Linked DNA regions of Homo sapiens. The protein of the gene in region 4 interacts with the protein of the main gene of each other region in a pairwise test. Each region holds a gene or a part of one and is shown on either strand. Other genes may lie near its edges.

Region 1 (3,343 bases), on a different chromosome or scaffold from region 4:
TTTGAGACCGGCCTGGTCAATGTGGCAAAACCCCGTCTCTACTAAAAATACAAAAATTAACTTGTATTGGCGTGTTGGCACATACCTGTAGTCCCAGCTACTTGGGAGGCTGAAGCAGGATAATTGCTTGAACCCAGGAGGTGGAGGTTGCAGTGAGCCAAGATTGCACCACTGCACTCCAGCCTGGGTGGCAGAGTGAGACTCCGTCAAAAACAAATAAGCAAAACTATACCAGCCCTTTTCGTGCCATCATTCCTTATTTTTTTTTGGAGATGGGATCTTCCTTTGACACCCAGGCTGGAGTGCAATGGCGCAATCCTAGCTCACTACAGCCTCGAACTCTCAAGGCTCAAGTGATCCTCCCACCCCAGACTCCTGAGTAGCTGGGACTACAGGCTTGTGTCACTGCACCCAGTTGTTTAAATTTACTTTCTAAGGCAGCCTTTAGAGTTTACAATTTAAGTTAGATGTCTGTCAGAAGCAACAGAGAAACAATGTTTTATTCCCAAAAACCGAAATGAAAAAAGATAGGGTTTAAGGCTCAAGAGGTACATTTTAAAAAATTATCTTTATTTAGGTTTCTGATTCAGCACATGTATCAAAGACTAATCAACATAAAGGAGTAAATAAGACATTAATTGAAAGTCTTACATCTCTCTAAACTCTGACCAAGAATGTCAAGATTGCCACTATTACCAGAACTCCAACCTAGTCAAGTTGTAGACAAGCTATCATGAACAACATACAGTGTGCACAGATATGCAGAGGCAAAAGGCATGCTAGCGCTTGGCTCTCCTCTTTTCCTTGTTGACATCTTTCTGTTGGACAGTCCACTTTCGCTTTCCAGGCTAAGTTCCAAATCAAGTCCAAAGAAGGCTCAGGGGTCAACCTGACCAGATACTCTTCTGGAGGAATGCATTCTTAAACTGTTGTGCCTGCAACTTTGTTTTTGCCAGGATGAAGTTCAGACCGAGATGTACAATACAATCTAGATGACGGTGCAGACTAAGTCAAGAACTAAAGTTGTGCAGTAACCCGAGTTAAGGCATGAATGCAGACACACACATGCACACACACAGCACCCATGCTATCAAGACACAGGATTTTTTCAGTTGCCTCATGAGAGGCAACCTGGGCTTGGCAGTTAATCAGAACTGCTGAGCATTCCAGAAAATGCCCCCCACGACTTTATGCTAACAGCTGTGTGTATGTTTTAATCAAAAAATTAAAGAAGAAAAAAAAACCCTAAAAAACAAAGAAAAAAACAAACAAAAAATCACCAAAAACCTAGAAACCCCTTAATCTCTTACAATGGCTCTTGAGCATGGAACTCATGTAGCAGCATCAATGGCTGGCTCTTTAACAATTTGGAAATAAAAGGTTGTTTTACTATGTATTTCTTTGGTAGTCATCACTACAAAGTTTTCAGTGTTGGTTACCTATAAGACAAGTACTAGACAGAAGATCAAGTTACACAGAAATATTTCTTCTGTACTGATAAGATACAAATATTGAGCTCTCAAAGCACAAGTTACTATGCTTTTTCTTGCCTTATTGGGCATTCTCTAAAAGCAAGGCTTTGTGCAGGAAAAGTTCATGTCTACCTAACAAAGGGTGATACATGTTCTATTTTCCTACAAGTGAACAATTAACAAAAATTCACATTATCAATTATTTCTGGTTGAATTCTGTTAGAAGCCAATTACAAAGGGACAGTAGCACTTGGTGTCAAAGCCACTTTCTGGTCACACATTCATTCCATGGTTGCTAGTCAGTATCTCAGGAGCTCAGAATTTAAAACTCCTTTCAGTCAACGAAGGAGTAAGTTCAATTAAAGGCTTCCACTATCTGCCAAATTTCTAGAATTCTGTCTAGAGTGCTAGCATGCTTGATGAGAGAAAGCAGTTCAGAGCCCAAAGAGGTGTCAGGTATTAGGTAAGTTAATTTGGTTTTGTATAAAAGGCATGGTAATCTGGCAACAGAGTACTTATCCTATTAGCAGCACAGTGGTAGCCAAGGGTCTCTGTCTGCAAGACAGGAAAATGAAGCTACTGAAGCCCCTGTTGCTCCCACCTGCCTGCAGGACGGCTACTGATTTTACAAAGGCCTTCTGGGAGCCAATCCAGGGCTCACCTGGGAGAGTGGGTAACAGAATGGCAGGAACCATGTTCAGCCCCCATGAGAAGTGCCCGACTGAGGGAAGTCAGCTTCCCATAGGTGAGGGGGCTGTTGCCATTATGGGCTCAGAATCTAAATCTTACTGATCCCTAGTAGTAAGACAATTGCCAAGAAATTGTCCTAGCAGGTACTACCCAAGTGTTACAGGCTCTGCATAGGTCCTCAAACACTTTAAAGGACACGAACCATCAAATTCAAAAGAGTAGTGTTTGTTCTATCAGTTCTGAATGTCCACAGGGAGAGGCAACTAGATTTATGTGGAAAAAGTGCTGTTTGAAGGAGCTGTGTTTTATTTCGAAGTGAAATGACTTTGGGAACCAGAACATTTCTGCAGATGTCTGAATATCAAGAACCTATCTCTAAAAGGCATTTATCAGGAAATGTTCGCTCACTCCAAGTGCTTTTTAAAAATTCAACATATGGCAATGTTTTAATTTTTGTGCTTTCAAGAGGTAACTAAATCGATAGGAAGCTGAGGGAAGATCATTCCATTATGGACTTTCTTGTTTGGGTGCAAGACACTATCCACAGCATTGAAATCTATAATCTCATAAAAGATTCTTATAAACATATACCATATTTCTCCTATAAGAAAAACTGAGAACTGTACCATGAAGGCAAAATTTGTTTGCCTACTCTCAGAATTCCTTGGAATGGCAATGTACCAGGAGGGTGAGTGAACTGTTGGTGAAAATTCCGGGTTTGACATGGCCCAGTCTGATCACATCAAAAACCTAAAGCCTCAATGATTAAATGCCAAACTTCTTCCCTGCATCTGAGAACTGTATTATGATTATGTATATTACACATACATTATAAATAAAATTTATATAGACCTACAGTTTCTTCCAAACAATTGAGTGATGTTCTCAGTTTGGGGGTGGAAGCAGGAAGAGGTGAAAAAATCTTATTGTTGCTTTTACTCTCAAGTTCTTAAAACGCTAGTCAAACACTATTATCCAACAAGACTTTTTTTTTTCATTCTGTTAACTCTTAAATATGCATTCGAAGGCAAAAATGGAGGTTTCTATACTGTACAATATTAAATATCTACAATGTCATGGTTCCTTATTTTTAGGAGTGTGTTTAATAAAGAGTTGGCTATTAGAGATGGTTGTCACAAAACATGGACTCTTAAAAATTACTGATAAATTACTTTTCAGTT
Region 2 (7,033 bases), on a different chromosome or scaffold from region 4:
TTTGTTTTAATTTGCTGGGTGTGGTGGCACATGACTGTAGTCCCAGCTACTAGAGGCTGAGGAAGGAAGATCACTTGAGCCCAGGAGTTCAAGGCTGCAGTGAGGTATGATCACACTACTGCACTCCAGCCTGAGCAACAGAACAAGACCCTGTCTCTAAAAAGATTGGAAAAAAAAAAAAAAAGATTCAGGTTTCTGAGAGCTGCTCACTATCTCAGCAACTGTCCCAACCCTGCCCTAGCTCAGCGTTCCCCTGCCCCGCAGCAGCATCGCAGGACACCCCAGACAGAGGGGTAACGGTGGAGATTTTACTCACAAATGCTGAGCTTCCCCCAAGGCTATGCTGTCCAACACAGTTGCCACTAGCCGCATGTGGCTATTTTCATTAAAACTAAATAAAGTCAGTTCCTCAGTCACACTAGGCACAGTTCAAATGCTCCATAGCCACATGCAGCGAGTGGCTACTGTATTGGACAGCACAGATACAGAACACTTCCACCATCTCAGAAATGCTATGAGCGGCCAGGCGCAGTGGCTCACGCCTGTAATCCCACCACTTGGGAGGCCAAGGCGGGAGGATCCCTTGAGGTCAGGAGTTCGAGACTAGCTTGGACAATTTGGTGAAACCCCATCTCTACTAAAAATACAAAAATTAGCTGGGCGTGGCAGCACGCATCTGCAGTCCCAGCTACTCAGGAGGCTGAGGCAGGAGAATCGCTTAAACCCGGTAGGTGGAGGTTGCAGTGAGCTGAGATGGCTCCACTGCACTCCAGCCTGGATGAGAGAGCAAGACTCCGTCTCAAAAAAAAAAAAAAAATGTTATGAGGATGTGGCTAATGGCTGGTGTTGTTGATCAACAGATGCATCCAGAGTGCCTATTACATTGCACAGGTGGGTGCTGGGTGGCCCTCATGCGGTTCACTCTAGTAAATGAGCTCAACACCTGACTGCTCCCTGCCACTGCAAAGTATGGCTGATGACTCTCACCTAGCAGTTACTTTCCCAAACTAAATTACCCTTGTATGGAGCCCAAGGGGGCAGGGTGGTTTTTTATTTCGGTTTTTGGGTTGTTTGCTTTTTTCCCTTTTTTTTTTTTTTTTTTTTGAGACAGAGTTTCGCTCTTGTCACCAGGCTGGAGTGCAATGGTGCAATCTCGGCTCACCGCAACCTCCGCCTCCTGGGTTCAAGTGATTATCCTGCCTTAGCCTCCCGAGTAGCTGGGATTACAGGCATGCGCCACCATGCCTGGCTAATTTTGTATTTTTAGTAGAGATGGGGTTTCTCCATGTTGGTCAGACTGGTCTTGAACTCCCGACCTCAAGTGATCCACCCGCCTCGGCCTCCCAAAGTGCTGGGATTACAGGTGTGAGCCACTGCACCTGGCCTCCTGTTTTTTTGTTTTGTTTTGTTTTTTGTTTTTGAGACAAAGTCTCACTCTGTTGCCAGGCTGGAGTGCAGTGGCACGATCTCGGCTCCCTTGATCCTGGGCTCCACCTCCCAGGTTCAAGGGATTCTCCTGGCTCAGCCTCCCGAGTAGCTGGGACTACAGACATGCACCACCATGTCTGGCTAATTTTTGTATTTTTAGTAGAGATGGGGTTTCACTATGTTGGCCAGGCTGGTCTTGAACTCCTAACCTCATGATCCGCCCACCTTGGCTTCCAAAAGTATTGGGATTACAGGCATGAGCCACAGTGTCCGGCCTTCCCTTTTTAATTCAAAACACCTCAGCTACTAATAATTCTGCTTTACTTCCTCCTTTCTAGGAGGGCTCGGCTGGGCAGAGGAGCCACAAAACAGAAATTACTTGTCTAGAACTGATCCCTTCTGTGCTCTCACAACAGGACTTTAGATCCCAGGGCCTGAAGTTGGCCAGTGGGATCTTGATTCCTGATGTGGGAAAGTCAGCAACTACACCAGTTGTCTCCTCTCCACAGCTCTGTCTTCACCTGTACTGAGGGCTCCAAGGTTTCAGAACCTCATCCTCCTGCCTTCCACAGAGCCCCAGGCCAGTCCTGGCCTGCTCCCGACTCCCAACAAGAAGCATTATGGGTCACAATGGCAGCATCAGGGTGACACTCCCCTGCCACCCATCATGGGCAGAAGCTCCCAGCAATGGCAGCCCCGGTGGGCAGGGGAGGCTGCTGAGCAGTGTGAGGCTGGACCGGGGAGCAGGAGGCGCTGCAACCAACGGGCATATCTCACCACCCTGACCTCTCCCTGCAGGCACAGAGCAAGTTGGCCCTTAGGGGCTTCCATGTCCAATTCAGCAGCTACCTTTCAAGGTTGCTGTCAAGTCCTGGGATCCCTGTTGAGAGTGGAGTAAGGTTGTAGAACTTGTCTTCCATTAGAGCCTCAGAGACTGGGAGTGTTGTTCTGCGGCCAAGCCAGAACCACTGGAACCGGACAGAGGTCTGGCCATTTTCCCTGGGTCAGCCCCACTGTCTTCTGAGTTTACTGGGTTAACTGTCACATGGAGGCACCTCCTCCTTTATCACCTACTCTTGGCTGCGGGAGGTGACCTGGGTGGTGTCTGGTCATGCACTTTCTACCCTAAATTAAAAGCCATGGATAGGAGCAGGGACTTCTGAGACCTGTGCTGAGATAACTCCCTGCCTGAGGCATAGGCTGCAGGGCACAGGGACTAGCAAGGGCTTTCCAGCTTCCCCATGACTGCTCCCAGGCTGAGGAGTAGTCTTGGCAAAAAGCCAACACGATATGCAGGGATGGGAGCCTGAGAATGTGAATGAAGGCCGAGACCTCTGAATCCAATTCTGGATTTTTTTTTGCAGGGCCACGGCCTCATTCCCTCCCGGTTCCCTCTGAGGCAGCCAGGGAGGTCTGGGTCCCATGTGAGAGACGGGGGGCAGAGCTGAGTCATGGGCCTGCTGCGGTGGGGTTTGGAATGGAGAGATGCAAGTCCTGACCTGACAGGCTGGCCTTGGGTCAGGACAAAGGAAAACAGTCACACCTAAGGGCTCAGAACCACCTGTTGGAAGCTAACCTGTGGTGGACACACTGATGTGATGTGGCAGCACCTGGGCATCAACAACTCACTAGGTGCCCCCACGGCCACTAGTCTCTGGGCCAAGGAGCTCAGGGATTGAACTACAGACACAAGGAGGGCAGAGAACAGACATGGAAGGATCCCACCCTTGACCAGGGTGGTTGTAGATACTTAAGGGGCTGTGGGGTGTGGCACCAGTCCTGCTGGATTTCAACCTGAACATCTCCTAAGTAGCTGTGGGCCCCTGAAACAATTCAGTGATCAGTAACACATAGCAATCGTCAAACCCTTTGCTGCCTAACTCAGGCCAGGGGACTACACATCAACTCAGAGCCTTGGGCTCACGGGAGCCTCACACTACCCTGACCCAGAGATGCCATCACCCTGTGGGCCTGGAGGGCAGCGGGGCCAGCCTGGGCTACCCAGTTGAATACACCTTGGATTCAGCTCAGGGTCAGCTGAGAAATATCTCTGTGTAGGAAGTCTCTTGAAGGTAGTGTATTTTGAGGAGGATACGGAAGGAGAGAGTAGGGTGTTTTCTAAGGAGACGGAGAAGAAGACCTCACAGGATGGGGAAGCCTTGCTGGAGTTGGAGAGAATCAGGATGGGGTGGAGCTGAACCCAAGAATCAGCTTTACCCAGCTGGAGCCAAATGCAAAGGCAGTGGCACGGGGCTGTGCGCCCACCATCCCTCAAAAGCTCATTTAAGGAGCATGGCCCCCCTCAGGGCAGCCGGCTCACCTCGGCCCAGGGGGAGAGCAGCAGCCGGAGGTGGCTCGCTATTGCGCCGCCGCTCGACCAGGCAGCGCTGGAGCTCCTGCAGCTTCTTCTCCTCCTGCAGCATGGAGTGCTTCCGCTGCCGCCGAGCCTGCCTGCTGAGGTTCTCCTCCAGGCACAGCCGACGGGCTGCCTCTGTGATCTGCAGCTGCAGGGCCAGCTGGCGCTCCAGGCTGCTTAGGGGGTCCTGAGAGAGGGGGCAGGAGTGAGGCTAGAGAGAGGCAGGGAGATTGGGGGCCCAGAGGGTGGACAGCAGCCCTGACACAGTGCTCTAGGTCCCAGTCCTAAGCCCTGAGGACAGAAGAGAGGCAGACAGCAGCACCAATGGACGGACGTGGAGCAGAGGGTGAAGGAGTGGGAGGAGCCGAAAAGCAAACTTGTCAGCCTGAAAAGCTGGCATGGGCACCCACCCACCAGCCCACCTGCTGAACCGGGCAGGGTGGGAACCCAAGTGGGACACTTTCCCTCCTGACCCCAAAGGGTGGGGCAGGCTGGCCCATGGGAAACTGCTGCCATTGACGCCACAGGGGAAGGGCACCCAGGGCCTGACTGCCCCCACCTCCTCCTGAGAAAGGAGGACAGCCCTAGGGGCCAGAGTAACCTGTCTGAGCAGGCTATTGCCCGCTGGGTTGGTGGCTGGTGCTCTTAACTGATCTTCTGCCCAATGGGGTCAAACCCAGTGTCCTCCCTTGAGCTCCCAGCTCTCGGTTCCTTAGTGGCGCCCCTTCTCCACAGCCATTTGGGCTACATATTCATGGTGTCTCTCACCAACAGGCAGCCAAGCACCCTCACTGGGTGTGAAAGGGTGGAAGGGAACCTGCCAGGGTACTGAGCTGAGGTGTGGCGTCTCAGTGATCAGCTTTGGGGATCGAGGGGTACTGGCAGCTTCCTGAGGTTCCTCACCTCTCTGTGCAAGGCCCAGTCATCCAGTTTGTAAGCCGCTCCGATCCTGCGGCGAACCTTGGGGGCCTTTTCCCCTGGTTTGAGGGGATACTCCGCTGGCAAGGTGCCCGTCAGCTCCTGGGGAGGAAGCAGAGACCAGCCAGGTCCTCTCCACCTGCCCAGACTTGGCTCACTGGCCCCTGCACTGCATGTGCCTGCCTTCCATAGAAGCCCTGGTGGGACCACCCTCCACCCCACCTCATCCCATCCTCCACACTGTCTCTCCTGTCTTCAGACCCACTCTGCACTCCTCCCCTTTCCCTTCAGACCTCTTTCTGATCACTTCCTCCAGAGCTACACCGACCCGGGTTACAGCACTCATATGCACTTATGTCTGTGCAGTCCCTCTGCAGCCCCTGATGAACTTTGTTCTCTGTGCCTGGGCCCCTGCCTGGGTCTGACTCTTCTCCATCCAGCACAAGGTCAAACACTGCATCATGGGGACTCTGGGCCCCAGCCCCCAGCCTGATGTCCAGAATTCCCTCAAGAATGGGGCTCCCTCTCCCCAGCTCCCGCATCCCCACACGTGGCTCCACAGCTCCTGAGATGAACCCGATGCTTGTGTGTGCTGGCTGGGGCCTCACCGCTTCCCGAAGGCAGAGTCTCCTCAGCTCCTCCAGGCAGGCCTCCAGCCTCGCTTCCAGGGCCCTCTGCTGCTTGTGCACTGCATGGGTCAGCTCCTTCATTGGGGAGACCGGGCTGTCGGGGCCTGCAAGGGTTGGGGGGCACATGCTCAGGGAGGCTGAAGATGGAAGCCTCCTCCGTTACTTATTGACCACCCCTAGGGGAATGCACATGCACACACATGCACACACACACACACATCTCATGCCTGCCCACAAATTGCAGGCTGGCTGCTGTGGCCTGTGTCACAGCCACAAAACACCACGTCTCTTGGCTGCACAAATGTTACAACTCAGAAGGGAGGGTCGTCCCACCAGGTGACCTATGGTGGGGGAGTGCAGGGGAGGGAGTTCTGCCGGTGCAGTCCTCCCCCCACTCCTCCTCCCTTCTTCTTCCTCTTTTCCTTCTCCTTCTTCTTCCTGTCTCTCTCTCTCCCTCTCCCCACTACCCCTCTCTCTTGCACACACACATAAGCCTCTTCTTTCTTGTCCTCTGTCAAGACTAGGCCAGACTAGGCCCACAGGTCTGGCCAAACAGAGAGGCAAGACCTTCACATTGGCCAGATGATATATTTTTTTTGAGACGGAGTCTTGCCCTGTCGCCCAGGCTGGAGTGCAATGCCGCGATCTCGGCTCACTGCAACCTCCGCCTCCCAGGTTCAAACGATTCTTCTGCCTCAGCCTCCCACATAGCTGGGACTATGTGGTAGCCAGGATGGTCTCGATCTCCTGACCTTGTGATCCGCCCACCTTGGCCTCCCAAAGTGCTGGGATTACAGGCATGAGCCACTGTGCCTGCCTGAGATTTTTCAACTTCTCAGCTGGGGCTAAAGTTGAACATTGCAGATCCCTCTTCCAGATAGAACCAAAACTCCAAGCCAGTTTTCTCCAGGGAGGAAAACTCCACATGTCCCTGAGGCTCCAGCCCTTCCAGAACCTCCCCCTCCTCCCAGCAGAGGCCTCTCCCTCCCCTTCCTCTCAGCCCTTGGGAGTCTCAGCCCAGCCAGCCCTAGTGCCTGAGGGCTCAGGACTCAGGAGTCAGGGCCAGGGACCAGGGACCAGGGACTAGGGACTAGGGCAGGGGGATTTCCCTGAACACTCACCAGACTGCAGGATGATGCCACTGTCGGTGTCGCTGACCTCATCCTTACTCTCCATGGTGGATTTCTGGAAGGAGAGGGCACAGAGCAGGGAGGGGGGACACCGTGACCAGCCTGGGCCAGGTTGTGTAGGTAGCCTGGAGCTTCCCCAGCTTTAAAGAGAAAAGAGAACAATAACAAAAAAGCTAGATATGAACCATCTTGGTTACAAAAAGCTGAATAGATGCTTGAGAGCAGGGGAGTGGAAGGGAGGACTGTGCTTCAGGAACCATCTGGGGCAGGAGATTCTGGCACTGGGGGTGCTGACCTAGAGAAGGGGCTGTGGGCCTCACCAGCAAACCCTGTTCTCAGTGGGCTCTCAGGGGCCCAGCCTAACTCCCCTCTGGGCCAAAGTCCTCTAGGCCTAAGGGGGTCGACAGCTGTGGTAGCCACAAGAACCGCTCGACTGGGGAGAAGGGCAAGAAGGAAAAGAGCAGAGACAGGATAAAAAGGAAGGGGACAAAAAATGGGATGGGATAACAAAGAAAGGAGGAAGGAAGCCCAGCATGGTGGCTCACGCCTGTAATCCCAGCATTTCTGGAGAC
Region 3 (7,891 bases), on a different chromosome or scaffold from region 4:
CTTTGGGAGGCTGAGGCAGGCAGATCACGAGGTCAGGAGATTGAGACCATCCTGACCAACATGGTGAAACCCCGTCTCTACTAAAAATACAAAAATTAGCTGGGTATGGTGGTGCACACCTGTAATCCCAGCTACTTAGAAGGCTGGGGCAGGAGAATTGCTTAAACTCGGAAGGCAGAGGTTGCAGTGAGCTGAGATCGTGCCACTGAACTTCAGCCTGGAGACAGAGTGAGACTCTGTCTCAAAAAAAAAAAAAATCATGTTTCATGCTTCAGTTTATCTGTTCTTTCTTTTTTTATTTTTTTTTGTGACAGGGGCTCACTCTGCTGCCCAGGCTGGAGTGCGGTGGCGTGATCTCGGCTCACTGCAACTTCCACCTCCTGGGTTCAAGCGATTCTCCTGCTTCAGCCTCCCAAGTAGCTGGGACTACAGGTGTGTACCACCATGCCCAGTTAATTTTTCCATTTTTAGTAGGGATGGGGTTTCACCATGTTGGCCAGGCTGGTCTTGAATTCCTGGCCTCAAGAGATCCATCCGCCTCAGCCTCCCAAAGTGCCGGGACCACAGGCGTGAGCCACCATGCCTGGCCCTCTCTGCTTTTCATAATCATTTTTGCATCCTTTGTTACAGGAAATGAGTTCCGAAAAACTCAGGGCAACCCAAAGTTGGACATCCTTTGCATCCCTGACTAATCACTGACACTGTAGAATGGGGTAGGAAGAAAATGAGTCTCTCTTCAACTGAATTGAGTTTGTTCTGGTGCAAGATAATGTCATCATACAATATACTTGACCAAGTCCTAATTCTCTTTATTTATTTATTTTTAATTTAATTTTATTTATCTATTTTTTGAGATGGAGTCTCGCTCTGTCGCCAGGCTGAGTGCAGTGGCACAATCTCGGCTCACTGCAACCTCCATCTCCCAGGTTCAAGCCATTCTCCTGCCTCAGCCTCCCGAGTAGCTGGGACTACAGGCGTGAACCACCATGCCTGGCAAATTTTTGTATTTTTAGTAGAGACAGGGTTTCACCATGTTGGCCAGGATAGTCTCGATCTTTTGACCTCGTGATCTGCCTGCCTCGGCCTCCCAAAGTGCTGGAATTACAGGCGTGAGTCACCGTGCCCGGCCTATTTATTTATTTTTGAGATAGAGTTTCACTGGTCACCCAGGCTGGAGTGCAATGGTGTGATCTTGGCTCACTGCAACCTCTGTCTCCCGAGTTCAAGCCACTGTCCTGCCTCAGCCTCCCGAGTAGCTGGGACTACATGTGCGCACCACCACGCCCGGCTAATTTTTATATTTTTAGTAGAGATGGGGTTTTACCATGTTGGCCAGGCTTGTCTCAAACTCCTAACCTCATGTGATCCACCTGCCTTGGCCTCCCAAAGTGTTGGGATTACAGGCGTGAGCCACAGTGCCCGTACTCTGATTCTCTTTAATTCCTAGTAAATATAAGCCCGGAATAACTGCCCATAGGGAATTTTACCATGTGGCTTTCATTATTCCCTTCCTTCTCTCCCTCAGAAGCCGATCCATCTTCCGGATGGGACCTGGTTTTAGAGAAACAATTGAACAGTTTCAAGCAACAGCTTTCTTTTTCTTGGTCCTTATCCCCTCCTGAATTCTGCACATCTGTTTATTTACTTGTTACTTCTCTGCCACCCCCAGGCTGTTGTCACGTCTTTGTCCTGTTTGTCAGGAACCATAGCACTATATCATGCCTGTCAGGTGGCGGAGATGCCACAAAAGCAAAGCTCCATGAATGAATGAAAAATATAATTATTAAAACATCGAAGGAACAGCAGGATTAGATCACCCCAGAAAAGTCACCTCAAATATAACTTGTGTCTGGGACAAAACTGGGGAAAAGAAATACAACGTAGAGAAAGTAGCGCGATCAGAGTAAGTGTTCTGGGGACTCTGAGTTTCTCCACGATTTACGTAGCACAGGAATATATATATATATATATATATATGTATATCTTTTTTAAAAAATTAAAGATTCAAGCTATTTTTATCTGTCAAAGGAATATAGATATGTTCAAAGAGACAGACAGTGACAGTTCCCTGTGATCTTCCCTTTCCTTCCCAAGATAATCATTGATAACATTTAGGACCACATTCTTTCAACATTTTTCTATGTTTTAAACACACACACACACCCTGAATTAGAGATCATAGTATACCTACCCTTTTACATTTATGCCTATCGTTTTATTAATAATACCTTTAGTCTTTCCATGTCAATACATACAGACCCACCTTTAAAAAAATGAAACAATACCGATGTGTCTAAGGTAAAAAGGCCAAACTCTTTCCAATCGTTTCTATCCTTTTAAACAGAGCCTAAGCGAGCAGAGGCCCGGTGGCAGGGATCTTCACTCAGCCGCCCTCCCTGTGCGCGCTCAGTGCTTCCACCCAGGCCCCAGGACGGTGACCGCGGACTATCGCGGGCCGCCTAACCGCAGGGACCCCTCCCATCGCGGGTCACCCCCAAGCCTGCGAGAGGGGATCTGTCCTTGCAGGAGGGAGGCGCGGGGCCGGGCTGGTCTCCGGCCACAGCGAGTGGCCCCGGAGCAAGGTCAGGGGCGGTATCCAACAGCCCCGCGCCCTGCAGAGCCCTCTACTCTTAGGAGGACTGCGCGCAGGGACCGCCACGCAGAGTGGTTGCCATGGTGACTGCAGAGTGAGCGGTCCCGGGTTTTAGAGGGAGTCGCGCGCTTGGAGTAGGGGAAAGAGGGAGGCCGAGAGAGGACAAAGGGACAGGAGGGGAGAAGTGAGAAGGGTTGGCGGGGGGGTGAGGGGCTGAACGCAGTGGACGGGAAAGGCCAGCAAAATGGCGAGAGAAGGGACACAGGCGAGAGGAAGGGGGAGTGGAGGCGAAGGGGCGAGGCAGGAGCCGACGCGGGGGCCACCTGGAGCGGTGAACGGAGAGCGCGGCCTGGCGACTCCAAGACCCGCTGCCCCTCGGCCCGGCTTACCGGCCCGCCGCGCCGCCCGGTTCCGCCATTTCCCGTTGCTAGGCGACGCTGTCAACATCCGGCCGGGCCGGGACCACGCGCGCTGCGAGGGCGGGGGCCGCCGGGGGCGGCGCGGCCTTTGTGCCATCTCCACGCACGCAGAGGCGCGCGCCGTCTCGACGTGTCGTCCCTTAGACTGTAATGATTAGAGCACGACCATGCTTTTCCTTTATCGCTCTCTGCGCCCGGGTCCCGCCTCGGCTGCGCTCAATTTCTGTAAAGCGACAGCGGCGTCAGCGTGTGCCCAGCGGGCGGCTCGAGGTCCCGAAGGGACCTGCCGGGCACCTGGGGACCCCGGACTGCTAAGCGCCCGGGAATGGCAGGCGGGCTGGGGGCACCGGGGGCCGGGGACCCCGCGCATGGCGAGCGCTTTTCCATCTCCTGCCCTAGGGGGCTCCGGTGCCCTTCTCCAGGGGTCCTACGGAGACTCCTTGCATGGACGCCCGGGGGGTCTTCCGGAGCGTATCTTCCCTTCCTAGTCCGAAATAGGAGAAATCTCCCTGCAGAGGGCGGCAGCGGAGGGCCAGCGCGCACGCGGAGCGTCCGAGGAGCCCTGCCTTTCCTTTGGGGACGCCAGGCTCGGGACGGGGCACAGTCCCCGAGGCCGGGACGCGGCGAGGCCTGAGGGAGGGCCAGCAGGGAACTAGAGGCTTGGGCCCAGGGCTGGGCCAGAAGGTGGGCGGGGAGACCGGCGGGGGCAGGCAGGGGCCGGGCCGGGGGCGGGCCCGGGGGCGGGCCGGGGGCCGGGCCTCCCCGCGCGTCCCCGCCCCGCCGCGCCTCACTGGCGGCGGCAGCGGCGGAGGCGACGGTGGCGGCTCTCGGAGCCGGCGCGAATCCGGCCCCCGCAGCGGGACCCGGGTGGGTATCGGGGCCCGGACGGGGCCGCGGGGGCGGGGTCCGAGGGGTCCACCGCGCAGCGAGCAGCGCCCCCTCGGCGGAGCTGGGGCGGGGGCGCGCGGGGCGCGTGGGGCGCGTGGGCCTGCAGCCGCGGGACCGGGGAGGGGCCGGGGTCCGGCCGCCGTCCTCGGGGTGCGGGGCGCCAGCAGGAGCGGGAGCGTTGTGGGAGGACCTGGATCACGGAGGGGCACCTGGGGACTTTTCCCCGCGGCGAGTGAGGGCGCCCGGGCCCGGAATGGGCCTAATTCGGGGAGACTGGTCCCCGCCTGTCTGGAGCGGTGGACCGGGGAACTTGCGGTCTTTGTCTGGCTGAATCGGCGGAGCAGACGGATGAGAACTTGTGGGGTGCCGGCGCGCGCCCACACAGCCTCCAAAGTGTGCGTCCCCCCAGCAGCGCGCGCTCAGCTTTCCCGGCCTGTCGGGCTTGGTGGTCTGGGCTGTTTAAGATCCGCGTGTCGGGATACTCACTTCCGTTCCGCCTGGGCTCCCTTGTTCTTTCCTTTGGGAAAAAAAAAAAAAGAAAAAGAAAGAAAGAACGAAAGGAAGGAAAGAAAAAAAGGAAAGGCAACTGAAGATTGCTAAACATAACCTAGGGGATCCTGCCGGAAGCCGCTGAATCCTGAAATCCTGTGATTCCCACACTCGGAAGCTGGTGTCGTATATTGGCCACAAAGTAGTTCAGATTTGATTCAGAAATAGGAAATGAATAGAAAAGACATAACAAAAGTTAGTCTCGCCTTATGGTAAAGTTTGTTTTACTGTCTGGGTCAAGTTCAAATGAGAAGCTGGGCTGATTGGCCAGCCTCTGCGACTTGATCCTGAAGATCTGCTTTCTTTTCTACCAGAAGGCTCCTAATTCTTTTATCTGGAATAAAAAGGGAACTCCGTCTTAAAGATGCTCACGTGAGGCGGCATATTGCCAGAGGGTGGGCGCAAAGACTGGGGGCTGGAGATTCCATTCCAAATCTGTTACTGATTGATCAGAACACTTTTTCAAATCCATGCCTCAGTTTTAGAAAATCCTCATTAGAAACGCTAACAGTAAAATTGGTGAATACTAAACACTTTTAAGAACCATGAAAGCTTTTGTAAATAAAGAATAAAGTGAGGAGTAACTTTTGGTATTAACTACAAAGTTCATTAATGGATGTTGTTTGCATCCTGAGCGTGGTTATTGTGCGCATATTTTTTTGTAAGTGGCATGTTTATGGTGAGACTATGGCTAACGAAAGTTTTTATGGCGAAAGTTTTTATGGCTGGGCGCCGTGGCTCACGGCTGTAATCCCAGCACTTTGGGAGGACGAGGCGAGCGGATCACCTGAGGTCAGGAGTTCGAGACCAGCCTGGCCAATATGGTGAAACCCCCCATATCTACTAAAAATACAAAAATTAGCCCGGTGTGGTGGCGTGAGCCTGTAATCCCAGTACTCAGGAGGCTGAGACAGGGGAATCGCTTGAGCTCGGGAGGCGAAGGTTGCAGTGAGCCAAGATGTGCAACTGCACCCCAGCCCGGGTGATAGAGCAACATTCTATGTCTCAAAAAAAAAAAAAAAAAGGAAAAAAAAAGTTTTTATCTGTGGAATTATTTAATCCTCTAGCAATTTTGGTGATTGCGTTAGTAGTTCCTAATTATCATGCATGAATTCACTTAACCCACAAAACAAGCTCATGAAGTCAGGACTGCAGTTATGCCCATTTACAGATGGGAACACTGACGCTTAGAGAAGTAACTTCCCAAGCTCATGCAGTTAGGAGTGACAGAATTAGGCCTTAGGCCCAGGACGTCCCAGCTCCAGAAAACCGTTGTACAACTTTGCCCTCTGTCTTACAGAGGGTGCCCACCATTCATATACAAACATTCTTCCAAGTGGTTCATAACAGTGCAAGGAGGTGGGACTAATCCCATGTCACCACTAGCTGCTAATCTCAGTTCACTTCAGTATGGAAAGCATCCCCCAGGCTTCAGGATAAAGCCATTGAGTTTGCAGAACCTACCTACAATTGCACTGGTCTCTGTCCACAGTTTTGGGTAATAAGGTGCAGTGGTTAAGAACATGGCGTAGAAAGATGGACTGCTGGCTTCAAATACAAATCCTGGACTGGGCATAGTAGCTCACACCTATAATCCTGTATTTTGGGAGAATCACTTGAGCCCAGAAGTTCAAGACCACCTTAGGCAACCTAGAGAGACCCTATCGCTACAAAAAATGAACAAATTAGCTGGACATGCTGGTGGGCACCTATGGTCCCAGCTATTTGGGTGGCTGAGGTGGGAGGATAGCTTGAGCCCGGGAGGTCAGGGCTGCAGTGAGCCATGACCAGCCTCTGCATTCTAGCCTGGGTGACAGAGTGAGACTCTGCTTAAAAAAAAAACCTAAAAAACCCAAACAACAACAACAACAAAACAACAACAAAAACCCCAACTCCTCTGGCACTTAGTTAATTCTCCAGTGCCTTAATTTCCCCATCTATACTACCTACTTCAGAGACTTTGTGCAAGGATTATGAAAAGCATTGAATTCCTGACACATCCTGAGTTACCATTTAGGATGTGGTAAGTAATGTCAAATGGTAACATTTTAACACTGTTATTAATGACCGTTATTTGGATTTTCCACATTTAACTAGATTGACACAAAACATTTTGTTTTTGTGCTTTGACTCCTCACTCCCCTTTGTGTGGTCCATGAGGTGGAAAGTGATTCCAGGCAGATGTAGGATTTACTATTTGTGCGTATGTGTACCCTTATCTTTACAACTTGACCGGGGGCTGGGTCCCTGCAGGATGCTATGGGGAGCAGAGCTGATCAGGTTGCCTGGCAACACCACCTCCTGTGAAAATTTTAGCTCCCCTTCTTCCCTGGCTGAGGGACCCTGATTTTTGTCACAGGCCTAAATTCTCTTGTAAGATTAGCTACTTTGTTTCATCCAGCATTAAGCACCGGGGGCGGGTGGCTCTGGGATGTGAAGGTGACAGCGCAGAGGATGATTTTATGATCGAATTGTACACCATTTGTATTGCATTTGCATTATATTGCTGTTAATGAGGCCAGTGCACAGGAGAGAGCACACATTTGCACCCTTCCCAAAAATATGGGGCAATGATGTTGGAGGCCTTTTTCCGTTCACCTCAGCGGCAGTGTTTTTTATCCTGTTGGCTTTGTTGGTGTTTTTATCCTATCTGTCCTTTGAGCACCTGATGTTGCATCTCTAATAAATCTGCTTTTATGAGCTGTCTGGTGGCATCTGATTTGAAATACGTTCTTTACTCTGTCTTCGGAACTTACATAACCATCCTCAAAGGATGAGAGAAATCGGGCCACTGTAAGACTAAGTTCGATTTCTGCCCGTGGTGGCTTCTGACACATGAATAACAGAAAGAAAAGAGAAATAATCCAAATCCACTGTCCAGTCGGAATGGCCTGCCCTTCTGTTGCTGAGCCTTGGGCGGTGAGTCTGTGCAGGCGTTGGAAGGTGATACATGTGTCTGCTTGCCTGTATGGGCTGCAGACGCTGAGATGTGGCAGTATTTTCTCCGTGGTCTTTCTGGATTGGTCACTATGAAGCCAACGTACTGCGGGTGCCAAGCCCGCATCCATGCTGGCTTGCACACTTCAGTCGTGTACTGCTTTTTGCATGTTGAGTGAGCCTGAATTCAATGCTCCAATATAGTTCATCATTACTCTAGCCTTCTGGAAGTGGGGGAAAGGGTGAACTTTACAGATGTCATTTGACAGCCTTTTGCCTTTTCTGTAACTAAAATGCTTTCCAAAGCAAGATCAGTTGTGTTGCTTTTGGGTGTTGTTAATATGTCCCCCCAGTTTCAGTTTTGTTTTGCGGTGCATTCACTGCTCCTTCACTGACAGATGCTGAGAAGCTTTAGGCCTCCATGTTTACAGGCACAGCATAGAAGTAGGAGGTACCTGAGCCAGACTCAGGGCAGTTTTTGATTTCCTGGCTGGGTCTGCATCTT
Region 4 (7,033 bases):
GGTGGGCCTCTGTGAATAGGGCAAGTCCTGGGTTTCCGGAGGGAAGGGGGCCCTGCAGAAGTGAGGGCAAGTGGGTGTGGCTGGAGCCAAGTGATGGGGAAGGCCGGTTGTCTCTCTGTAGAGCCCGCGGAGCTGAGCAGCGGGGAGACGGAAGAGTTACAGAGGATCAAGTGGCACCGAAAGCAGCTCCTGGAGGACATCCAGGTGAGTGCACACTCGTGTCCACACACGTGTCCATGCCCACACTCCTGCACGCTTGTACGCACCCCACCAGCTCCTGACCCAGCCTGGTCAACAGACAGTGTGGCCAACTCTGGCTCATATCAGCCTCGGCCCCAGCCCCAGGAGCAGGGAGAACAACAAGACTGCAGACACCCCGAGACCCAGGGAGAACTGGGAGAGCCGGGGAGGGAGGCAGCGATCCAATTAGGCGCCCACCGTGTGCCGATCCTCATCCTGGCCTTTACTTGCTTTGTCACAGGGCAGGCTCTGACCCCTGTGGTGAAGCTTCAGCCAGGTCTCACCCCTGCAGAGTGTAGACCACCTGGTCAAGATAACTCCCAGTATGTGCCCTGCACTTACCACTTCACCAATCAGACTCAGACGTCAGCTCATCTGGGTCAGCAGCTTCTGAGACAGGCTGGGTTCTGTTCCTGGAACGTGCCTTGCTCAGCACTGCCCCTGGGCCTTTGCACTCGCAGTCCCCTCTGCCTGGGCTGCAGTGGCTGTGCCCACCCCCACTCCCATGCACATAAACTTAGGATTTCAGTGAGGAAATGAAGGCACAAAATTATTCACTCAGCTGCTGTTTCATTGAGCACCTACTATATGCCAGGATTTCTCTACCTTGCTCTGATGGTGTTCTGCATAGTCATTCCAATTACCCTATGACCACCCATGATCCCAGCCCCACCAGACTGTGCCCTCCATGAACACAGAGCCGAGGTCTGTCTTGCCCACCACTGCATCCCCAGCCCGCTGGGTGCAGCATTAATAGGTGCTCAGTTAATACTTGCAAATGAATCCCCATTGTATTTGTGGGGCAACCACTCAGTGGCTCTGCCAAGATGGCATGAACAGGAGCTGACACGGCTCAGACACAGGCTCCCAAGTCCCATGCTGGCCCTGAGTCTCAGGACAAGTCCCTGGAACCAGCCCCTCACCAGCACCCTGCAGATCCTGGGGAGAAAGGGGCTGGGTGCCTAATGGGGGTGCCGGCCAGAGGCTCATGCTGGTGTCCTTCAGGGGGTGCTGGTGGTTGGCAGGGGGAGGTGTTAGGGGGTCCCCTCTGCCACTGGGTGCCTCCTGCAGGGTCAAGATGAAATGGGCTTGGGGTCGAGTTGGGGGAAGCACAGGTTTGGAGTCAGACTGCGGGCGTGTCGTGTCATCTCTCTACGCCTCAGTGTCCTCTTCTGTAAAGTCCAGGGGAATTGCAAAGTCCCTGGAAAGAGGGCCTAGGCTGCCTGTGCGTGGTGTCCCCGTAGTACCTGGCAGGCACATAGCGGGCACTTAGTCAAGGGTGAGCAACATAGTAAATGGAGGAAAGCCAGAGAGAAGCTGAGGAAGCAGTAGGGAGCCATGGGAGGGGTTTGAGCAGGGGAAGGGCAGGCTCCATGCAGTGCTCCAGAAAGACACCAGCCGGGAGAGGCAGGCAGGGTGGAGGCGGGCAGGGTGGAGGTGGGCTGGGGGAGGTGGGCAGGGTGGAGGCGGGCGGGGGGTGCAGGCAGGGTGGAGGTGGGCAGGGTGGAGGCGGGCAGGGTGGAGGTGGGCTGGGGGAGGTGGGCAGTGGGGAGGCCGGCTTGTCGGGTAGGCTCGGCTAGAGTGCAGGAGACTTCATGGCTGCAGAGAGGAGAGATGGGAAGGTTGGAAAAAGGATGGGCAAGGGATGGGGGCTTGGGGAATCCCACTCCCCAAGACAAGTGGAGGCATGGGTGCAGACAGAGGTGATAGTTTAGCATGCGACTTAGAAATTATGAGACATCCAGGGAGGGGACCTGTCCATGGAGGGTCCCTCAGACTGGGGACTCAGGACAGAGGTCAGGGAGAGGGGCCAGGTTTGAGAGTCGTGCCCAGGGGTAGGAGTGGTCCTTGTGGTCTCAAACCCCCGGGGTTCTGGCCTCCACCCCTGACTCTCCCTGTCCTGCCCCTGCCACCCCACAGAAGCTGAAGGATGAGATTGCAGATGTGTTTGCCCAAATCGACTGCTTCGAGAGTGCGGAGGAGAGGTGAGGGGCTTGGGTGGGGACCCCCAGAAACTGCCATGGTTGCTTCCCAAGGATGTCATACACCTTGAATGAGCAGGGGCCACTCCCAGCCCCCTGGACCTGGTGAAATCAGGGATTGGCCAGGGAGAAGGAGGCAGCAACGAGACCGGAACAGGGTGGCCCCGGCCCCATCCCGGGTCTGGTCCCTGCTCCCAGGCTGACCCTCTCTTGAGAGACACTGCGTCCTCCCCTCCCCCAACCCAAAGTCTCTCCTGACCCACTGTGGTCCAGCCCTGACCGATCACTGGCCACATCCACCCTGGGATGGGCGGGGAGAAGGGAAGCTCAGCCCCAAGGGCAAGGACAAGGAAGCCCAGGGCCCCAGGAGGACAGGAGCCTGGCCCTACCCCACCCCACTCACCACTAACCCCGGGCCAGCCACGCCCACCGCCTCTGTGGAAAACTCCCACTATTTTGTGATCTGGGACAGATCCTGTCCCTCTCTGGGTCTCAGTTTCCCCATCTGTGCAACAAGAAGGTTGGTTGCTACACAGTCTCCTAAGGCCCCAGTGCACTGACTCTGACACACGATGTCCTGGCAATTTCCCATCCTGCGCCCGCCACTCCTTAGGTCTCCACCTGTCCAGCCTCCTCCCCTCCCCCACCACACACATGCACACACACACACGCATGCACACACACACAAGCATGCACACACACACAAGCATGCACACACACACAAGCATGCACACACACGAGTGGCCGTTTCTCCAGCTCCCCTGTTCCAGCCACAACAATGACAACATAACACACCTACGCCTCACTGTTTTAGGTGCTTTAACCTCTCAACAATGCTGGGAGGCAGGTGGTGGTATCACCTCCATTTTATAGATGAGGAACCTGAGGCCCAGAGAGAGGAAGTGACTCGCCCAAAGCAGCCCGGCTCAGATTCGCATCCAGGAGCCTGGCTCCAGCACCTGCGTGCTCAGCCCTCGCCCCCTCCCCCGGTTTCTTGCACAGGGCCCCTCCACCTTCTCCCACACGGCAGCTCCGGGTTCCTGCAAGCTGCTAAATGCCCGTGCTGGGCCCATCAGAGAAGTCAGCTGCAGAGCTCTGGGAGGAGCCAGGCCTTGCACTGCTCTCTCCCGCCCAGGTGGTTCCCATGCAGGACCCGGAGGCCACACTTGGAGGGCCCTAGAGGGGTATGGGCTCCTGCTGAGGCAAGGGTCCTTGGGGAGTGGAGAGGGTAATTCAGGGTCCTGGGGCAGCCCAAGCTGACGTCCTCATGTCCACAGCCGGATGGCCCAGAAGGAGAAGGAGCTGTGTATTGGGCGCAAGAAGTTCAACATGGACCCCGCCAAGGTAGGTGGCTGTGGAGGGCCCGGGCCACAGGGTGTGGGGGCTGCATGGGAGCACCTGCCTGGTGTCCTCTCGCTCCCCTCGGCTGACACGACCCCTTTCCAGAGGAGGAAGCTGTGCCCAGCAGAGCTGAGCATCTTGTCCAGTGCCCCATGGCCAGCTGTGGCTGGGCGCCCTGTCTACTCCCAGGCATACACGCCTTGGGGCAGGAGGAGCCAGGAGCATGGAGGAGGCCACGGTGTCCATGCACTTGGCCTAGTCCCTTCCCCACTCTGGGCCTCCATTTCCTTCTCCATGAATGTGGCTTGGGACAGTGGAGCTCTTGGATCTGGGGCTTAGGCTCCAGAAGCATCTTCCAGCCCTGGGCTCAGGGAGGGCCAGTCCTGCGGTCCCACCACCCACCCCTCTGCTAGTAGGAGCAGCAGCTCAGGGCTGGGTTACCTCGATCCCCCACACCACTCCCAAGCCCCTGGCCTCACCCCACCAGGTGGCAGCTGGGCTTCCATCCTGAAAGGACGGAGACAGAAGGAAACCGCAGGCAGACACACCGAGGTGGGGTCAGGTGGCCAGCAGAGAGCACCAAGCTGGGGTCCCTGGAAATTTACCGCTCTGGCTTAGAAGGCTCCCTGTCCCCATCACAGGCCCAAAGTGTTATAACCATTCACCTCTCATGGCTACAGACCCTTGGACTCCTGCTCCTACCCACAGAGACCCCCGCAGGCTCACACTCTCACCCCACCCAGCACCCAGGGGTGTCCTCTGCATCCTCTGCCTGTCACTGGGCCCTCATGGCCTGTGCCCAACTTCCAGCAGTGGAACACAGAGGAATCTTCACGGAGAGCCAGAGACCAACCCCTCCAACTCCTAAAACTAGGATGACAAACTCTGAGTGCCTTGGTGGTGAGGAGAGGTGCTTGTGATATTGTCAAATCCGAAAAACAGATTTAAATGTGACAGGCATGGTCTGAGCCCATTTTCACATAGAAAGGGAAGGAAGGTCACCACGATGGAAGCTGTCTGCCTCCGAGCGGTAGGGCCCGGGCAATTTCCTCCCCTTTGGATTGAGCTGGTTTTTCTAACTTTTATACAATAGACATAGATTACTTGTGTGAAAGAATGAAACGCTATTTTTAAATAATATGAGTTTTAGGGGAACAAAAGAAATGGCTGAATCATTGAATCTCAGAATCACAAATTCCTAGAGTCACTGAAGCATATAATCAAAGAATGTCAGACTGAGGGGGACCCTGGGGAGTACCTGGCATGAACCTGGTTCATGGCAGGAAAGCTGACTTTCTTTGCATGCCTCCAGTGATGGGGAACTCATCACCTCCCAAAGGCAGCTCCTATGAAAGAGGGGTCAAAACTTCCCAGAACAGACTGTGCCAACACCAGAATGCCAGGCTCCAGGATTCTGGCCATGGAAGCTCCTTCCTCCCTTCCCCCTCCCAGGCCTGCTTCCATGCAGCAGCTGCTCACGGCTTCTGTGTACCCCCTCCAGGGTATCCAGTATTTCATTGAGCACAAGCTGCTGACCCCTGACGTCCAGGACATTGCACGGTTCCTGTATAAAGGCGAGGGCCTCAACAAGACAGCCATTGGTACCTACCTGGGGGAGAGGTAAGAACGAGTGGAGCCTTAGCGAGGCAGGAAATGAAGGTGTGCAGGTGTGTACAGGTGTGTGGATGTGCAGGTGAGAGGATGAATTATGTTAGCAAAGTCATCACTCCTAGTGCTTGAGGGGCTCACGGATCATCCCCTCCAGATTCTGAGTCAAAGCCTGACTGCCTTCATTCATTTAGTCATTTATTCAACAAATAAATGTTGCTCAGGGTCTACTGTGTTCCAGGCACCATCCTAAGCCCTGGGTGTACACCAGTGAATAAGACAGACAAAACTCTTGTCCTCAGGAAGTCCATGCTAGTGGGAGAGACAGGTCTCAATAGTTGTAAAATATGTTAGAGAATGATAAGCTCTGTGGAATACAAATCGAGCAGGGAAGGGAAGTCAGAAATGCTGGGGACCGGCCAGGCTCGGGGCTCATGCCTGTAATCCCAGCACTTTGGGAGGCCGAGGCAGGCAGATCGCGAGGTCAGGAGTTCCAGATCAGCCTAGCCAACGTGGTGAAACCCCGTCTCTACTAAAAATACAAAAATTAGCCGGATGTGGTGGCAGGTGCCTGTAGTCCCAGTTACTCAGGAGGCTGAAGCAGGGGAATCGCTTGAGCCTGGGAGTCGGAGGTTGTAGTGAGCCAAGATCACGCCATTGCACTCCAGCCTGGGCAACAGATTGAGAACGAGACTCCGTCTCAAAAAAAAAAAGAAAAGAAAAGAAAACAAAGAAAGAAAGACATGCTGGGGACCATAGGTTGGGGGCTGTGATTTAGAATAGCGTGGACAGGAAGGGTCTCATGGAGAAGGTGACATTTGACCAAAACGTAAAAGAGGTGAGGGCATGAGCAGTACAGACATCTGGGGGAGGAGCGGTCCAGGAGTAGCAAGTAAAAAGGCCCTGGGGTCAGAAACAGGCTCAAGAATCTAGACTGGACGGGAGGAGAGAGGAAGGATATTGTGGGCGAGGAGGTGGGGATCTGTGGGAGCGCTCTGGGCAAAGGACTGGTCTGAGGGGTGGGCGAGTGGATAGGGGTGAAGCTGGACCAGAGAGTCAACAGCCCTCTCCCCAGCTCCCAAGGACACCCCTCCCTCCCGCGGTGAGCAGGGGATGCAGACGGTGAGAAGGGCACCTTCCTGCTTCAGGAGCTGGGGAGAGGGAGGAGATGGGGGAGGTCAGCTTCTCTCCCTTGTACAGATGAGGAAGCTGGGGCTGGGAAGGTCAAGTGGCTTCCGCGAGGTCACCAGGTGGGAAGTTACAGGAAATGAGGAAGGCCTGGACTGAGGGCAAGGCCGCTCCAAAGCCAGGGCTCCCCTCCCAGGCCAGACCAGCGCTGGTGAGCCGTGAAGGTGTGTGTTCCTGCATGGGAGGACAAGGGTGTGCCCTCAGGGTGTGATATGGGTGGGACAGATGTGAACACACCAGATGGCAGCTGGACCCCAGAAGGACAGATGTCTCTGTCCTCTCCCTCCCCCACCTCAACCCCCTCCAGGAGGTGGGTGCCAGCAAGTATCCAAGTGTGTCCCACCCTCCCTTCCGCCTCCTCCCCCAGGGATCCCATCAACCTGCAGGTCCTCCAGGCCTTCGTGGACTGCCACGAGTTCGCCAACCTCAACCTCGTCCAGGCCCTCAGGTGAGTAGTCCTGGGGCAGGGTCCCGGCCCTCAAGGGTGGCACAGCCCCAGTGGCTGGGGGTGTCGCGATCCACATAGCTGACAGCACAAACAAAGGGTTGGGAGCAAAGAAGAGGAGGCAAGGAACAAGAATGACTTCATGATAGTACTGCCTCACAGAGCTGAGCTGGACCGCCTGGGAAAGGGCCTAGTTCCTTGCAAATAGCAAATACTGCCTTCTTAGTTA

Evidence for each region.
Region 1: the proteins of CYTH4 (region 4) and CCDC6 interact in binary tests that used the Homo sapiens proteins (3 or more experiments, as listed by UniProt).
Region 2: the proteins of CYTH4 (region 4) and INAVA interact in a two-hybrid assay, tested with the Homo sapiens proteins (one study listed by IntAct).
Region 3: the proteins of CYTH4 (region 4) and CCDC40 interact in binary tests that used the Homo sapiens proteins (3 or more experiments, as listed by UniProt).

The regions. Positions count from the first base shown.
Region 1 is NC_000010.11:59,788,214-59,791,556, forward strand, and holds the end of CCDC6 (coiled-coil domain-containing protein 6), read right to left. Parts: 3' UTR 534-3,343; downstream 1-533.
Region 2 is NC_000001.11:200,897,875-200,904,907, reverse strand, and holds part of INAVA (innate immunity activator protein), read right to left. Parts: intron 6,602-7,033; coding exon of another isoform or gene 6,508-6,601; coding exon 6,453-6,507; intron 5,436-6,452; coding exon 5,311-5,435; intron 4,805-5,310; coding exon 4,688-4,804; intron 3,972-4,687; coding exon 3,749-3,971; intron 1-3,748. UniProt on the Homo sapiens protein: Expressed in peripheral macrophages and intestinal myeloid-derived cells, is required for optimal PRR (pattern recognition receptor)-induced signaling, cytokine secretion, and bacterial clearance.
Region 3 is NC_000017.11:80,031,783-80,039,673, reverse strand, and holds the start of CCDC40 (coiled-coil domain-containing protein 40), read right to left. Parts: upstream 3,033-7,891; 5' UTR 3,012-3,032; coding exon 2,983-3,011; intron 1,552-2,982; coding exon 1,488-1,551; intron 1-1,487. UniProt on the Homo sapiens protein: Required for assembly of dynein regulatory complex (DRC) and inner dynein arm (IDA) complexes, which are responsible for ciliary beat regulation, thereby playing a central role in motility in cilia and flagella.
Region 4 is NC_000022.11:37,292,500-37,299,532, forward strand, and holds part of CYTH4 (cytohesin-4), read left to right. Parts: intron 1-102; exon of another isoform or gene 103-121; coding exon 122-204; intron 205-2,160; coding exon 2,161-2,225; intron 2,226-3,499; coding exon 3,500-3,566; intron 3,567-5,064; coding exon 5,065-5,183; intron 5,184-6,726; coding exon 6,727-6,807; intron 6,808-7,033. UniProt on the Homo sapiens protein: Promotes guanine-nucleotide exchange on ARF1 and ARF5. Promotes the activation of ARF factors through replacement of GDP with GTP.